Linked DNA regions of Homo sapiens: all the other regions are linked to region 1. The links come from fine-mapping of genetic effects on gene expression. A gene starts in region 1. Each other region holds a variant in brackets. All regions are shown on one strand. Distances are from middle to middle.

Region 1 (4,157 bases):
CTGGAGCTGCAGATGCCACAAACCCATGAGTAAATTGAGCAGTCCGAGGCCTGAGAACCATCCCCAGTGAAGCCACAATAGTCCTAGTTTTAATTTTTTTGCAGCTTACAATTTCATGTGATTATTATTATTATTTTTTGGAACATGATTCTGCTGCTAAAAATGCGTTGGAAAACACTGGGCTTGATTCCCCCTCTAAGGTTACATTAGAAGAGGACATGTTTCCTGTTACTACAGTAATTTGTTTTTCCCACCTCCAAGACAAGGGACAGTGGTCTACATTCAGGCTGGGAAAAGGGTGTCGGAGAGAAGAGGGCTAGAAGGATAGGTGTGGTGGGAGGAAAGGCGCTCTGGGAAGCCCCCGTGTTCCCAATGTGCTGCCAACTCCCCAAGGCTACCACTGGGACGCACCGCTTGCCCCTGCCCCCGCTGAGGTGAGCCTCTCTCTGCCTCCTGCTGCTTCGTGCTCCATCCTTTGAGTACAATGATGGTCCTTTGCCCGCAGCACCCTGTGCCCAGCAAGGTGGGCTTATAAGGCCCCAACCTGCCACCTACATTGTCGCAGCTCCTTCTTGAAGGCCTTGTGGTTCCCCAGCTCTTCCAGGAAGACCTGGCCGGCTTTGCGGAGGGTCTCAGAGCTCTTCTTGGTCAGGAACCAGCCGAAGTAGAGCGGCAGGAAGTCCTTCTCCAGCCCAGGCTTCAGCTTCTTCAGGTCATCAGCCGACAGCTGCCACTGGTTCTTCTCCTTGAGCTGGGCACAGTCCAGCCGCCACGCCGTCTTGGGCTCCACCAGCACCACCTGGTACTGGTACTGGTCGGCCATTTCAAAGAGCTGCTCCAGCCGTTCCCGTTCGTGGTTGGTGTCATCAAGCACAAGAATTCTGATGTCCCGGCGGCGGCAGTAGGCAGCCAGGTCCTCATCGAGCCGCTTGTACTCCTCGGAGAAGGCTCCTCGAGCGCCGGGGGTGATCTTGTAAGCGTCAGCCGACACCATCTTGGTGCCATCACGGTACTTGTCCACGATGACCCGTGCCAGCGTGGACTTGCCGCTTCCTGGCAGGCCGCGCAAGATGAAGAGCGTCTTGCACTCTAGCAGCGTGGCCACTGTGTCCTCATCCTGAAGGAAGGGAAACTGCAGCTCAGGCTTGTCCTTGGCCCCTGAGGATGACATCTTGCGGAAGAAGATCTTGGGCAGGAATGTGTGGCTTTTTCGGGAGAAGCCTCTGTTCTGTGTAAGGAGGGGAAGAGATGTCAGCCCAGGTCATTCGCGGGCTCCCCGCCGGCCTTACCCCTAGTCCCTAGACTGGTTGTGGGTGCCTTCCCAAGCGGGGCAGTGCTGGACCTTCTTTCCCTTTCGGTCCGGGAGCACCTTTCCGCTTCTGGTCGTGGAGGAGGAAGAGGGAAGCTTGTCTGAAGCTCTCCTAAGCGTGCGCTTTCCCCATTCCTGCCACTTCGGAAAGGTAAACGTGCTGGAGGCATGCGGGGCGCGCCAGGAGCCTGCGGTTCTGGGACTGGCCTCACTCTTATATGCTTGGCACCTACTAAGGACGTCCTCTTTGGAGGTGGGGGTCTCTGTGTCTGGGCCAAGCCACAGCTGCCACGGCTGAGTGCACAGAGAAGGGGGGGAGTGGAGAAGGGTTACCCCAAGACTGCCTCCCTTCCCCCAACAATGGCCGCAACAGATAATACTCTCTTGTCTGGCATGCGGGTACAATGGTCCCACAGAAGGGCTGGTGGGGGGCAGGGCAGGAGAGCACTGGACAAAGGCCCTCTTTCACCAAGCCTGCCACCTCCTCCTCTACCCTCTCCCGGCCCCCACAAAGTCGTGGTCTTTGTGCCTGTCCAGAACAGGGCAGCACAGGGCACCTGCAATTAGGATCCAGCTCTACCCGCCGCTGTGCTGTGTGTCAGAAGCGCCTCTCGGAGCCACTTGTTTTCCTATCTTCTAGAAGCCACAAGGGACGGCAGCTTTTACCGTAAAGGGTCCCCTCCTCTGAACTGGCTCCACCTCCCGCCCGCACCCGGGCGCGGGGCAGCGGTTCCGCGTGATGAGACTGGGCCCGGGGAGGGGGCGCCGAAGCGGCTGCCCCAGCGCGGGCCTGCGTGGGGTCGGGAGCAGCTCCCGGGCTCCCGGCCCAGGCCCACCCAGGCTCCCAGAGGCGCAGCAGCTTCTGCGGTCCCGAGTTCCCTCCTGAGAAACACCACCGTTTCCCTTTACAGCGGCCTCTCCGGCACCCCAAAACCCCTCCGCTTCTCCCAGACCTCAGGGCCGCCCTGAGTACCAAGAAAACTGGAAGTCGAACCCGGAGCCCCGGGTCCTCGTTTGCAAGACGCTTCCTCCCGAGGGGCCCCGACACTCGTTTCCCGCCCTGGTGCTACCCCGTGCCCGGCCCCGCCCGGCCTCTCACCATGATGAGGAGGGGCGCCACCGTCGCCGCCTCTGCCGGCACCAGCGCTCCGGGGCCGCCCGCCTGCGCGGAGGGACACGGGAGTCCAGCGGTGGCACGACCCGAGCCCGGCCGCTTTACATAGCCCGGGGGGCGGAGCGGGCACCCGGGCGGGCTGGGGGCGGGCCGTCTCCTCTGCGCGCAGGCGCTGCGAACCAAAACCCGAAACTCTCGCCGCGCGCGGGAACCTCGGCCCGGTCCCGCCCCCTGCGCGCGCCTGCTCCCCACGCGCACCCACCCACTGCGCCTGCGAGCTGAGCGGCCACTAGCTTTTTCTGCGTGTTGAGGGGTAACTCAGTCACCCTCCCCGGTCCCGTGGATTAGCAGGAAGTGAGTGAGGCAGGGTCGTGCAAAGTCGGATCCTGTCTTTAATTTTTGATATTTTATTCATCATGGACTTTTGCATTAATTAAAAACTTTTTTTTTTACCACATTGGATTAAAATATTATCATGCAATTTGCTGGCATTCCGGTAAACTCTGCATCTGAAATGCCTCACTGGCCTCATTCGTCCAGGCCCTGTGCCAGCCGAAAGTCAGTCTCAGCCCCGACCTTTCCTTCTAGGAGCTGTGGAGACAGACCAGGATGGCAATGGCCAAAGGGACAGATGAGTAACGGAGTGAAATCCTAACATCCTCTGAGGCCAGATCCTCAGCTGCCACCTCCTCTGTGAAACCACTGAGAGCTCCGTTGGATTTTTGAGTTTCCTGTCCAAGTGCTGTGCTAAGCACTCAGTCCTCGCAGCAACCCCTGAGGCAGGTATCCCATTGTTCAGAGGAGAAGCCAGCTTGGAGAGCCTGATTTACCTGATTATGCCACCCAGAGGTGTCAGAGGCGGAGTCTGTCTGCCCTCCCGACTCCCAGGCCACTCCCCTATCTTTGGCCTCACTCCCAGCATTCGCTTGGTTCTGGCTTGCGGCATTCTCCTACCTGTGACAGCTGGGGCCGCCCCACCACTGTTCCATCCATAAAGCCTCCCCGCTGTCCTGCGCACTGGAGGGACTCAGTCAGTCACCGGTGTGTGGGAAGCACCTCTCCTCCCAGGCCTTCCCCTCTCCTCCCTGTGACTTCTTGTTCCCTGTAGCGCCCGTATCTTCACCCTCCTGAAACCCTTTCTTCTTGGCACCTTTCTCATTTCTTCCACGATGCTCTTCCAAGAATGGGCAGGGGTGAAGAGGCAAAGTGACAGACTCAGGGTTTGCAAGAGTGAAAGACACCTATTTAATGGCAAAATAGTGATGGAAAGCAGCAGAAGTAAAACCCTCATTTTTCCTATAACAGACAAATCGCTTGAAAATCCAGTTTAATAAAATCCCATGATCCCTCTGAACACCAGCTTCCTGATCCTCATCTCTACCGATGGCTTCATTCATATTCCTTTTCCATCTCATTTCCTGTTTTTTTCGTTTCTCCTATTTCTCCAAATTGTGTTTTTCCCAGTTCTTCTGGCTCTCTTCTGCCCACTTCTGAAAGTTTCTTTAGTTCTTCTGGTTCCTGTCTGCTGAATTCTCCTGAGAGTCTTTGCTCTAATTCTCCCGAAGGCCTCCTATAAATTTCTCTTGACTCTCTTCTGCCAGCTTCTAGTAGCTTCCTGCCTGTTTCTCCTGATCTTGTGCCTAATTCTCCTGACAGGCCCTTGGCAACTGCTCCCAAATCGCTTCTGGCTTTTCCTGCTTCCACACTCTGCTTTCCGCTTGCTGGGCTCTGCAG
Region 2 (4,157 bases), 100 kb before region 1:
AATTCAGCCTGCAAAGGACCTAGGAGCCCAATCCCCTCTCTTATCTATTTTATTTTATTTTTTACTTTTTTGAGATGGAGTCTCGCTCTGTCGCACAGGCTGGAGTGCAGTGGCGCGATCTCGGCTCACTGCAAGCTCCGCCTCCCGGGTTCACGCCATTCTCCTGCCTCAGCCTCCTGAGTAGTGGGACTACAGGCACCTGCCACCACGCCTGGCTAATTTTTTTGTATTTTTGGTAGAGATGGGGTTTCATCGTGTTAGCCAGGATGGTCTCGATCTCCTGACCTCATGATCCGCCCGCCTCGGCCTCCCAAAGTGCTGGGATTACAGGCGTGAGCCACCGCGCCCTGCTATTTTTTACTTATTTATTTTTTTGAGACGGAGTTTCATTGTCTCTGGGGCTGGAGTGCAGTGGTGCAATCTCGGCTCATTGCAACCTCTGCCTCCCAGGTTCAAGCAATTCTCCTGCCTCAGCCTCCCGAGTAGTTGGGATTACAGGCACTCACCACCATGTTGGCTAATTTTTGTATCTTTAGTAGAGACGGGGTTTCACCATGTTGGCCAGGCTGGTCTCAAACTCCCAGCCTCAGGTGATCCACCTGCCTTGGCCTCCCAAAGTGCTGGGATTACAGGCAAGAGCCACCACGCCTGGCCCCCTCTCTTTAAAGACAGGAAACCAAAGCCCAGCGAGGCAGGGTCTGGCCCAAGTTTGGCCGGCCAGCCAGCCTGGCCTGGTCTGGGAAGTAGGCTGGGGAGGCGGGAGGGTGGCTGTTGGCTGACATGGAGGAAAATGCCAGAGGGTAACTGGGCTTGTTAAGGGTTTGAGGAGGGAACCCTTCATGCTCTGCCAAAGGCTGGGGACAGGTCTCGAACCTTCCTCTCCGGTTACCTCTTTAGGAGAAGCAGCCTTTTCTGGAGGACTCCTTTCCCAGGCTGCAGCAGAAACAACCGTCTGCTGCCTGTTTTCTGGCCTCCACAGTCCCCTCCATTCAGCCCTCTCTGGATGGACAGGCAGGGAATCTCATCACCTCACGGTGGCCAAGGACCCCATGGAAACCCAGGGACCTCACGTGCATTTGTCACCCAACCAGAAGTGGTGGAGATGGGACCCCAGAGCCCTGCCTGCGTGCTCCCCCCAACCCACCCCCCAGCTCCACATTGATGGACACACAGGCAGACAGGCAGACAGAAACTGGGCTACACAGCTCTCCAGCACAGGTAGTGTGAGCCTGCCTCCAAGTGGGTGGCTCCCTCCCAGGGCCCAACCCCTACCCTCTCTGCAGCAGCCTCAGCCCATCTCTCAGGGAAGACAGGGAACAGAGGGAGATTTAACCAGCTTCCTGTAGAAATCCCAGACAGACAGACAGACAGATGGATGGGTACATACACGCTTTTTCTCTGCTTTCCCCTTGTCCTTCCTCCCCACCTCTTTGGCTCTGGCCCCACCTCTTTCTACCCAGGGTGTAGCCCGTCTCTGCGAGGCACAGGGCCTGATAGAGGCTGCACAACCCTGCCCCTCCCCAGAGCCCTTCTCTGAATCTGTGGCCCCCTCCCCACCCATCAGTTCAGGTCAGGATTTGGCAGGCTTTAAGGAGAGGTGGGATGGGGCAGTGGGTAAGGACTTGGGCTTTGAGTCAGACAAGCATAGGTCCAGGTCCAGCCACAGAACCTCCCAAAGCCTGTTCTCTAATCTATGCAGTGGGATAACAGGTTAATAATGGTGCTCATCTCATGGAATTGTGAAGTTTAAGAGAGATCCTGTTTGGGCATGGTGGCACATGCCGGTAATCCCAGCTACTTGGGAGGCTGGGGCAGGAGGTTCACTTGATCCCTACAAGTTTGAGGCCAGCCTGGAGCCTGGGAAACGTAGTCAAACCCTATCCCC[C/T]CCAAAAAAGAAAAAAGACCCTTTTTGTCAAACACCTGGCCCACAGTAAGCCCTCAATAAATGGGGTTGTTATTTCATAAAGAAGATGTGACGTAAGCAGCTGGGGGGCGAAGAGAAAGACAGGGAAGCCTCTATAATCAGCTCATGCATCGTCTTTCCATTTGCTTTGAAGCAAGTCCACTGCCCTGCTCTGGAACTCAGTTTCCCCATCTGCTTAAGGCAGCATGTGGACTAGGTCCTGTCCAAGTGTAGGTCCTGCTAGCGTGGGTCATGCTGGCTCTGAGTAGGGGCCAGGGTTGGGGATGCCGAGCTGCCGATGCTCAGGGCAGGGTTAGACAGACCTGTGTGCCCCCGTCACTGCCCACCCGTCCACACTTTCTGACTGGGCTCCCCTAGCTTAGCTGGGGCAGTGTGGCTCCTAAGGGAACAGCTGGGAAGGCTGGGTCAGGCAGGGCAGGCTGCAGCAGGCCCAGCAGCCTGGCTGGGGGGAACACAATTAGCCCAGAATCCAGGCGGCCCCGTGAGCCCAGAGGCTATATATCACAGAGGTTTAATCAGCTGTGTGGCAGATATTTGCTCTCTTGGGCGATGTCCCCGGCCCGCCTGTCATAAATTGCACTGAGATTTCAAAATACCCCTGTCCCCATGCTGGCGGGGCAGGCAGCTCTCCTTGGCATGGCCAGGAAAATCTCATTCCTCTGAAGCCTCCACCCGGGGAATGGGACCTCTCCCCCCACCAACACTTGCACCTAAGACCTTCTTCCTGCCTCCTCCTGCTGGGAGAGTTGGGGAGGACATGGAGAGGCAGGAGAGTCGCTGTGATGACCTCCATCTAGAGGTGAGAAGGTGCAAAATATTGGTGGGGGGCTCCATGCAGTAATGGGGCCTTCTCACAATGGCAGTGACCTCCAGTGTGCCCTCTGTGGGAAGAGCTATACCCTGGACCCGTGGTGTGGCTCCAGGAGACAGCTGCATTGCCCCTTGAGTGTGGGGACTGGGGTCTGTCATGCCCAGGGGGTACGGAGTCTTCACCTACCTTCCCACTGGATGTTTGCTGCGCCACCTGGAGGCTATCTGTGGGACTGCCGCCCAGCCACAACATCCAAACCCTAGCAGCAGGGTTTGGACCATCAAATCACCAAGCACTTATGACCACACCAGGGTGAGATCTATGGCGCGTTAGTTTGTTAGGGCTCCCATAACAAAGTGCCACAGGCTGGGTGGCACTTAAACAGTAGAAGTTTATTGTCTCAGTTCTGGATCCTAAAAGTCCAAGATCAATATGTGTCAGCAAGGCTGGGCGCAGTGGCTCATAACTGTGATCCCAGCACTTTGGGAGCCCGAGGCTGGAGGATCTATTCAGCCCAAGTGTTTGAGGTTACAGTGAGCTATGATCACACTGCTCCACTTCAGCCTGGGCAACAGAGCAAGACCCTGTCTCTCTCTCTTTTTTTTTTTTCTGAGACGGAGTCTTGCTCTGTTACCTAGGCTTGAGTGCCATGGCACGATCTCGACTCACTGCAACCTCTGCCTCCCAGGTTCAAGCAATTCTCTTGCCTCAGCCTCCTGAGTACCTGGGATTACAGGCACCCACCACCGCGCCTGGCTAATTTTTTTGTATTTTTAGTGGAGACAGAGTTTCACCATGTTGGCCAGGCTGGTCTTGAACTCCTGATCTCGTGATCCACCCACCTCGGCCTCCCAAAGTGCTGGGATTACAGGCGTGAGCCACTGCGCCCAGTCAATTTCACCTTTTCATAAGGACACCAGTCATGTATATTGGATTACGGGCCCACCCTATACCAGTCTGGCCTTATCTTAATAGCATCTGCAACGACCCTATTTCCAAATAAGGTCATATTCTGGAAGTGCTGGGGATTAGGATGTCAACATATTGAATTTTGGGGGACATAATTCAACCAATATCACATAGTGAGTCTCAGATGTTCAGTGACAGTCTCATTTCATGGTCTGGGCACAATGACACCCACACTATGGCACAGCTACACTACGACATGCACACAGAGTGAGTGACATAGATTCACCTCAACAAACGATGGGGTAACAGACATTTGCAGTGACCCAGGTACATCATGACAGACACACAGGGTGACAGACTTCACTCACAAGCTGCAAGAGACAGACACACTATGTGTTAATAACAGCTGATTGGCCGGGCACCAGTGGCTCACGCTTGTAATCCCAGCACTTTGGGAGGCCGAGGTGGGCGGATCACGAAGTCAAGAGATCGAGACCATCCTGGCCAACATTG
Region 3 (4,157 bases), 76 kb before region 1:
AACTGCTCATCCTGGCCTCGTGCCTGGGGAGGTGGCAGAGTGAGGGAGGTAGAGGCAACTGGCTAGCTGCCTTCAGTCTGAGGCCCCAGGTCTGGGCTACCCATCCCAGAACCACAGTACCAATGGGTATGAGTGTGAGTGTGTGTTCACCTGTGTGTATAAGGAATGGAGCTTTAGAGAAAGCAAATCTTCCTGTGTCTTGGAAAGAATCAGCTTTCTGCTGATTTCTTTTCTTTCTTTTTTTTTTTTTTGAGACAGAGTTTTGCTCTTGTTGCCCAGGTTGGAGTGCAATAGCGTGATCTCGGCTCACTGCAACCTCCGCCTCCCGGGTTCAAGCGATTCTCCTGCCTCAGCCTCCCGAGTAGCTGGGATTACAGGCATGTGCCACCATGCCAACTAATTTTGTTACCTTTAGTAGAGATGGGGTTTCTCCATGTTGGTCAGGCTGGTCTCGGACTCCTGACCTCAGGTGACCTGCCTGCCTCGGCCTCCCAAAGTGCTGGGATTACAGGCATGAGCCACCCCACCCGGCCGTCTTTTTTTTTTTTTTTTTTTTTTTTGAGACAGGGTCTAGCTCTATTACCCAGTCTGGAATGCAGTGGCGCCATCATGGCTCACTGCAACCTTTGCCTCCCAGGCTCAAGCAATCCTGCCTCAACCTCCCCAGTAGCTGGGACTAGACATGCACCACCATGCCTGGCTAATTTTTTTTTTTTTTTTTTTTTTTAGAGATGGGGTTTTGCCATGTTGCCCAGGCTGGTCTTGAACTCCTGGGCTTAAGTGAGCCACCTCCCAAAGTGCTGGGATTATAGGAGTGAGCCACCATGCCTGGCCTGATTTCCTTCTGATGAAATAGATGACTGTGGGCTGAAGGGCACAGTCATCTTTTGGGCTAGGAGTTGAGAGTTCTGAGTTTTAGTCCTGGTTCACTATGAACTCCTCATGGGCCCTGAGAACCACTACCTGTCTCCAGACTCAGTTTCCCCTTTATAAAATACAGTTGCCTAGGTGATGCCAGCCTTTCCAGTTCTGAGATGCTTCATCAGTCAAAGCGAATTAGTGCCTTGTCCTGGGTGGAAAGAGACCCTGGGAGGGGGCTGGGGTCCCCATACCTCCCCTGCTTTGGATAATGCTCTAGGGCCCTTTGCATGACTCCACCCACTGCCCAGAGCCCCTGCCCCAGTGAGTCCCTCCACCCCTCAGCTGGGAGGACTCTGTGGGCAGCATGAAGCCTACCACTCCACCCTAAACCACCCCTACCATGACAGACCCCTAACACCTCTGCCTGTCTCTTTCATCTCCAGTCTCCCACCGGCAGAGCAGGAATAAACTCTCCAGGCTTAGATGGATGGGCCCTGTTAGCCTGGCGGGCTGCCCCCAGCCTGCCTCCCCATCAACTCTCCTTGTCAAGGGAGGTGCCTGTGTGTGGGGGAGGCAGGGGGGCAAGAGCATTCAGGTGGGGGTTGGGGGTTCCTTGCTGAGAGAGCAAGAATGGTGCCCCCAGGGAAGAAACCAGCGGGAGAGGCCTCCAACTCCAACAAGAAGTGTAAGCGTTACTTCAACGAGCACTGGAAAGAGGAGTTTACCTGGCTGGACTTTGACTATGAGCGGAAGCTGATGTTCTGCCTCGAGTGCCGCCAGGCCCTGGTACGGAACAAGCATGGCAAAGCCGAAAACGCCTTCACTGTGGGCACAGACAACTTCCAGCGCCACGCCCTGCTGCGCCACGTGACCTCAGGAGCCCACCGCCAGGCTCTGGCTGTCAACCAGGGCCAGCCCCCTTTTGAGGGCCAGGCTGAAGGTGGAGGGGCCTGCCCAGGCCTGGCTACGACCCCTGCCTCCAGGGGCGTCAAGGTGGAGTTAGACCCGGCCAAAGTGGCTGTGCTGACTACTGTGTACTGCATGGCAAAGGAGGATGTGCCCAATGACCGCTGCTCTGCCCTGCTCGAGCTGCAGAGGTTCAACCTGTGCCAGGCACTGCTGGGCACAGAGCATGGCGATTACTACAGTCCCAGGAGGGTGAGGGACATGCAGGTGGGTGACAGCCAGAAGTATGGGGGAAGGGCTTGGGAAGGGAGGACACTGAGCCACCTGGGAACAGCCCCAGCATGCCAGCTCCTTGGGGAGCAGCTAGGGCATTTCATTCATATCTTCACCCTTCAGAACCTTCCCTGAGAGCCTATGTCCCTGGTCCTGGGCCAGCTGCAGGGATACAACAGTGAAGAGGCCAGACCAGGCCTCTTAGCGGGCACAGGGGCACTCTTCTCACTGCCTAAATCAGACGTTGCAAACTGGTGGCCTGGAGGCTTGATTGACCCACAGATGTATTTAATTTTTTTTTTTTTT[C/TC]TTGAGGAATCTCACTCTGTCACCCAGGCTGGAGAGCAGTGGCGTGATCTCAGCTCACTGCAACCTCTGCCTTCCTGGCTCAAGTGATTCTCCTGCCTCAGCCTCCCTATTAGCTAGGAATATAGGCATGTGCCACCACGCTCAGCTAATTTTTGTATTTTTAGTAGAGACGGGGTATCACCATGTTGGCCAGGCCAGTTTCGAACTCCTGACCTCAGGTGATCTGCCTACCTCAGCCTTCCAAAGTGCTGGTATTATAGGTGTAAGCAACCGCGCCTGGCCTCTGTTTTTTGTTTTTTGGTTTTTTTTAAACATAGAGATGGGGTCTCATTATGTTGCCCAGGCTGGTCTTGGGCTCCTGGCCTCAAGCAATCCTCCTGCCTTGGCCCCGCAAAGTGCTGGAATGGAAATGGAAATGACTTTTGACTTAGTTTTCTTTTGGGGCTGTTTTCTGTGCTGAGCCTGTTTAATTGGTTTTCATAATGTTTTTGAAAAACTCGAATGTGTTTCAACTTTTAAAAAACTCAGGAGATTACATATAAAAATCTAGATTTGTGACTTGTGTTGAAAAGCAAGGTCCCCATGCTCTCAGAGCAGGATGTGCTGGAGTTGGAGAGCAGGGTGTTCCCTCTGGCTTATCCCTGGCCCTCTCCAAGCTCAATATCACTCACATGGCCCCTGGAAGCATGCAAATTGCAGCTCTGTCCTAGGTACTAACTGTGTAAGTCCTATGGGCTGGGTTGGAGGTGGGGGAGTTGGATCTCATCCTACAGAGATGACAAATAGAGAAACAGCACACAGCTGGGACCCAGGGTGACTGGTTGGGAGTTGGGAGTGAGTGTGCCTATCAGTTAATCACTGAGCTGGACAGTGGAGGGAGACCCCCAGGAATAGGGCAGACTAGGATGATGCTATAGAAAAACACAGTGAAAAAACTAGCTTTCCTAGAGCTCTTTATGATTCATAAAGTGCTTTTACCACAACAAAAGTTGATGTTTATAATTCACAACAAGCTTTGAGAAGATTTCGGGCTGGTATTAGCTGACAGCAGGTATAAGAGCTGAGAAAACTAGACCGGGTGTGGTGGGAGGCCGGGGTGGGAGGATATTCTTAGACAGGCCAGGAGCTGTAGAGATGAGAAAACTGAGGCTCGGAGAGGTGAAGTGACTGGCCGAAGGTAGCACAGCCAGTAAGTGGCAAAGCCAGGATTAGTCCCTAAGTCTGTCTAACCTCAAGGCCTGGGCTCTTTCCACCACCCCGCACTGCCTGCCTCCGCCTCTCAGGACAAGCCTAACTCAGTCCTCCCTCCCTTTCTTTCCCTGGCTGTCCCAGGTGGCCATTGCCAGTGTCTTGCACACAGAGGCCTGCCAGCGCCTGAAGGCATCCCCATATGTGGGGCTGGTGTTGGACGAGACCAGAGACTGGCCGGAGTCACACAGCCTGGCCCTGTTTGCCACTTCAGTGTCCCCCTGTGATGGCCAGCCCGCCACCACCTTCCTGGGCAGTGTGGAGCTACAGGAGGGCGAGGCCACTGCTGGCCAGCTCTTGGACATCCTGCAGGCTTTCGGCGTATCTGCACCCAAGCTGGCCTGGCTCAGCTCAAGCCTCCCCAGTGAGCGCCTGGGGAGTGTGGGCCCACAGCTCCGGGCCACTTGCCCACTGCTGGCAGAGCTGCATTGTCTCCCTGGCCGGACAGATCCTGAGCCCCCGGCCTACTTGGGTCAATATGAGAGCATATTGGATGCCCTATTCCGCCTCCATGGTGGCCCTAGTTCCCACTTGGTCCCTGAGCTCCGGGCAGCACTGGACCT
Region 4 (4,157 bases), 27 kb after region 1:
CCTGGCTAACATGGTGAAACCCCATCTCTACTAAAAACACAAAATTAGCCGGGCTGCCAATAATCCCAGCTACTTGGGAGGCTGAGGCAGAAGAATCACTTGAACCAGGGAGGCGGAGGTTGCAGGTTGCAGTGAGCCGAGATCACTCCATTGCACTCCAGCCTGGGCAAGAAGAGTGAAACTCCATCTCAAATTATTCAGTCACTTAGCACACATTCATTACATGCCCACTGTGTGGCAGATGCTGGGAATAGCACCTTCCAAAGTCCAAAGTCTAACAGGACAGAAAGGCTACCTGTGGAGAGGGAGCCTAGGGGAGGGATTTGTAACCCCTGGGGCAGCAGGCAGGCTTTTCTTTTCTCTCTTTTTTTTTTTTTTTTTGAGACGGAGTCTCGCTCTGTCGCCCAGTCACTATCTCGGCTCACTGCAAGCTCCGCCTCCTGGGTTCACGCCATTCTCCTGCCTCAGCCTCCCAAGTAGCTGGGACTACAGGCGCACACCACCACACCCGGCTAACACTACGCCCGGCTAATTTTTTTTGTATTTTTAGTAGAGATGGGGTTTCACCGTGTTAGCCAGGATGGTCTCGATCTCCTGACCTCGTGATCCACCCACCTTGGCCTCCCAAAATGCTGGGATTACAGGCGTGAGCCACCGCTCAGGCTAGGAGGCAGGCTTTTCAACCTTTATTGAAATGTTGAAGAATGGGTGGCGGCAGCTTGATAAAGCAAGTGCTGGGAAAAGGGAAAGCATTCCTGGGGCTGGAGGATATGCACAGAGCTCTGCACTGGCTGGGGCCCAGAATGCCTGGGGGCCTGGAGAAAGCCAGGTCAAGACAGGCCAGGAGAAGTCAAGTGAAGAAGGGCAACCTGTGTTGAGCAGGGCATTGAAATTTCATCCCAACCACAGGAGTTGTTTTTCAGAGAAAGGACAGCTGAACTGTAGGAAGCCCAGGTCAGAGGAAACAGGCAAGAAGTAAGGATGGTCTGGACTGAGTTGTGGGAGGGAAACAGAGAAAGTATGGACAGGACAAGACATGGCCATTGCTGGGCATGAACAGTGAGGGGGCCAAGCGCAGTGGCTCACGCCTGTCATCCAGACCAACTTGAGCGATATGGCAAAAACAGAGAGGGGAAGGAGGTATCTGGGAAGCCTCCGGTCTTCTGGCTTGGGACTCAGTGGCCAACAGTGCTATCCTCGGGGATGGGGAACCCTCAAGAAGTAAGTTTGGGAGGAAGATAAGGGATTCCGATTTGGACATGTTAAGTTTAGGATTCCTGTGGGACATCCAGATGGAAATGTCTTAGAATCTGCTGGACACACAGGTCTGAGGCTCAGGAGAGAGGTCTGGCGAGAAGTAAAGATTTCTAACTCATTTGTGCATGGGAGATGGTTGGATCCAAGGTACCATATATATACATCACATCTAATCCCCACAGTCCCTGTGGGTTGGTATTATTATGCCTTCATTAGAGATGAGGAAACTGAGTAGAGGAGCAACTTAATCAAATCCACACAGCTTCTAAGTGGCAGAGCCAGTTAGAAGACAGGGATCGAAGACAGGTCTGTCCCTAAAGCTATTTTTTTCTAATATGGGATGGCCAGTATGGGATATTCCTGCTCAGCACAGTGGAGGCAGGCGAGAAATGAACTGGGAATGGAAAGCATATGGGGCTTGGATCAGTGAAGAGGAAAGGGCAGGAGGCAGGAATGTTCAGGAACGTTTGACCCCAAGGGAAGATTGCTATAAGAGGGCCAGGGTGGGTTTAGAGAGGGCCTGAGGGCCAAGCAAAGGGGCTTGACCTTTAACCTGCAGGCAGTGAGGGGCCCAGGCCCACTTGTGAGCAGGGGAGGGAGAGTTCATAGCATGTGTCTCTGGAGATTTGTGGGAGGAGCTGGAGAGAGACAGCAGAGGCAGGGGAAGCAG[C/T]AGGACTCAGGTCGGCTGAGGGCTGGGCACTGTGAGGGCAAATGGGATGATGGGAGATCAAGGAGGCTCAGACTGGTGAGATGGGTAGAAACCAGGCAGGAGGAAGTCAAGAATGACTCCAAAGGGTAGAACCAGGATGCTGAGAAAGCGATGGAACCTCCGGGTGGAAGTCAGCAAGTCTTGAGAAGATCTCATTTCTGGAGAGCTGGTGTTACTACTATTGTGGATACCAGGCACTGTCCTAAGGTCTGCACAGGTACTTCTGTATTTCATCCTCCCTTCTGCCCTACAGGGTGCCCAGCTAACAGGAGGAGACCCTGAGGCTGAGGGAGCTAAAGTGGCTTATCTCAGGTTCCACGGCTGGGCGGTGCAAGTTCCACAGCCTAGGTCTGCCTGACTCCACAGCCCGTGCTCTTGATCAGCACCGGTTTTAAAAGACCCTGCTTGATCCATCCCCTGCCCACTTCCTTCAGCCTCCTCTTGGCCCCTCTCCCTGGCAATATGCTGTGCTCTCCAGGCTTAAGTACCCTCCTGTCTCAGGGCCTTTCCATAGGCCCTGTGTGTTCCCCAATGTCATCAAGTCCTCCTGGAATGTATTTCTCACCACACTGGATCCTGTACTTTTCTTTCATGGCACTTATCACAATTGCAATTAATTAGCTATGTCCCTTTTTGCTTGACATCTGCAGGGAAATGGCCCTTGTGTCTGGTTATTACTGTGTTCCCACACTAGCAGCATCTGGCATGTCTGGGGCTTCATGCATGCTCGTTAAGCTGATGTAAGAATATAAACATCCCTAAGAGCCAGATCATTGGGTAGCTTTTTGGAATTTTGAGCCACTACCCTTTTGGTGGCAAAAAAGCTAACAGTCTAGGTGCCCCCACCCTCAGTCCTGGGCAGGTGGTCCCCACCTCCAGGAGAATCTACCTCAGGCATGCAGAGCAGAAAATGGGAGTCAAGCCACCAGCAGCCCTGGCAAGGGCCTCAGATAGCCCCAGGTGTCCTTCTCCGTAGGCTCACGCCAGTGGCCTCCCCTAGGGCACTCACTATTCCTTGGCGATCTCCAGGTCCTTTCTGTGGCTCTGCAGGGCTGCCTCCATCTGCCCCAGCTCAATCTGGGCATTCCCTATGCAGCTATACAAGTTTCCAACCAGTTCATCCTTGTTGGGTACCTCTTCCTTGTTCCATTCCAGTACCTTCTTCAGCACTTTCTCAGCTTTCTGAAGACTCCCTTCAGCACTGCCACTTGTGAGCACTGAGAAAGGAAAGGGGTGCTGTGGAGGCCAGGGCAGCCTCCTCTTAGCTGACAGGGTAACTCCTCTTCCTGCAGACACCATCTGCAGGTCTGAGAGACCAGGGGCTCAGACACCTGGTTGCTCCTTCCCCACCTGATAAGGCACTGGAGGCACCTGCCCCACCCTCTGAGAACAACACCTACACATATCAATGTCCTCCAGGCTCTTGAGGATGTAATGGGCTGTCTGTGAGGGACGGCGTTTGTGGTCCCGCAGCCATTTCTCTTGCATCAGCTTCCGGTCCCGCTCCCTGGCGTAGATCGGCTTCTGCTGCCTCCAGAAGTTGCTGTGAGTATCCAGGTAGTTGATGCCCGTCATGATGAGGTCCTCCACAGTCAGGCCGCCCTTCATGGTGCCTTTGATCAGGTCTGTGGGGAAGGGGTGTGAGGAGGCGCCAAGGAGAACAGGCCTCTAAGGGATTTGCCTCCTGTTTCCTCCCGGTGGCCGCTGCAGGGCCCTCTGTGAACTTGCTCTGCTTGGAGTTGTTGAAACAGAGAGGAGTGTGAGTGCGCATAGTGGCAGAGTGGGTTTATCCAGGCCAGGAGGCAGCCAGAGCCCCACTATCAGGGAGTTCCATGCTATGGGCCCCTTATGGCAAGATATGAGGAGCTAGCCAGAAGGGGCAGCTGGTGGATGGCTCGCTGAGAAGCCTCGGGGCTTCCCCAGTTCAAGCTGTGTCCTCAGATAACACTGAGTCTAAATGCACGATCTGGCCCAGGCTGCCAGTGCCCAGTGATTTCCCAGGTGCCCAGTGGGCCTGTGCATGCTGGAAGCTGGAAGGCGGGTGCCCAAGTCCTGCCCACTGCCTGGCCAGAGGTTACAGCCAGAAGCAAAGCTACAAGGCCACTTGAGGTAATATTCAAGCCACCTCTTCCCTCCGCAGCGGGTCCTCTGGAGAATAGGAGGCATTCAGGCCTGTTGCTAAGGAGATGTG

Evidence for each region. PIP is the estimated chance that this variant, and not a neighbour inherited with it, causes the effect.
Region 2: its variant is the best candidate, but not a certain one, in a credible set for the expression of CNP in whole blood (INTERVAL, PIP 0.64).
Region 3: its variant is the best candidate, but not a certain one, in a credible set for the expression of CNP in whole blood (INTERVAL, PIP 0.54).
Region 4: its variant is the best candidate, but not a certain one, in a credible set for the expression of CNP in blood mononuclear cells (TOPMed, PIP 0.51).

Annotation. Positions count from the first base shown.
Region 1 is chr17:41,965,139-41,969,295 of GRCh38, reverse strand. CNP (2'',3''-cyclic nucleotide 3'' phosphodiesterase) reads right to left here and starts at 2,501. Exons shown (of 4, transcript NM_033133.5): 1 at 2,409-2,501; 2 at 556-1,228. The coding sequence starts at 2,411. It overlaps ODAD4 (outer dynein arm docking complex subunit 4), which reads right to left. Exons shown (of 12, transcript NM_031421.5): 12 at 2,793-4,157. The coding sequence ends at 3,813. RefSeq lists enhancers at 354-911, 912-1,469, 1,470-2,027, 3,129-3,228 and silencers at 1,999-2,188, 2,319-2,758.
Region 2 is chr17:42,066,258-42,070,414 of GRCh38, reverse strand. The region is part of intron 1 of ZNF385C (zinc finger protein 385C); the gene reads left to right. Among named protein-coding and RNA genes, the nearest start is that of C17orf113, 18 kb to the right of the region's middle. RefSeq lists an enhancer at 1,894-2,394 and a silencer at 2,870-3,164. The variant C/T (reference allele first, on the strand shown) is at 1,886.
Region 3 is chr17:42,040,711-42,044,867 of GRCh38, reverse strand. All of the region lies in intron 2 of ZNF385C (zinc finger protein 385C), which reads left to right. It overlaps C17orf113 (chromosome 17 open reading frame 113), which reads left to right. Exons shown (of 3, transcript NM_001358661.2): 2 at 1,305-2,034; 3 at 3,679-4,157. The coding sequence starts at 1,492. Among named protein-coding and RNA genes, the nearest start is that of C17orf113, 7.8 kb to the left of the region's middle. The variant C/TC (reference allele first, on the strand shown) is at 2,347.
Region 4 is chr17:41,937,991-41,942,147 of GRCh38, reverse strand. ODAD4 (outer dynein arm docking complex subunit 4) reads right to left here. Exons shown (of 12, transcript NM_031421.5): 6 at 3,367-3,591; 7 at 2,976-3,183. Among named protein-coding and RNA genes, the nearest start is that of ODAD4, 9.5 kb to the right of the region's middle. The variant C/T (reference allele first, on the strand shown) is at 1,928.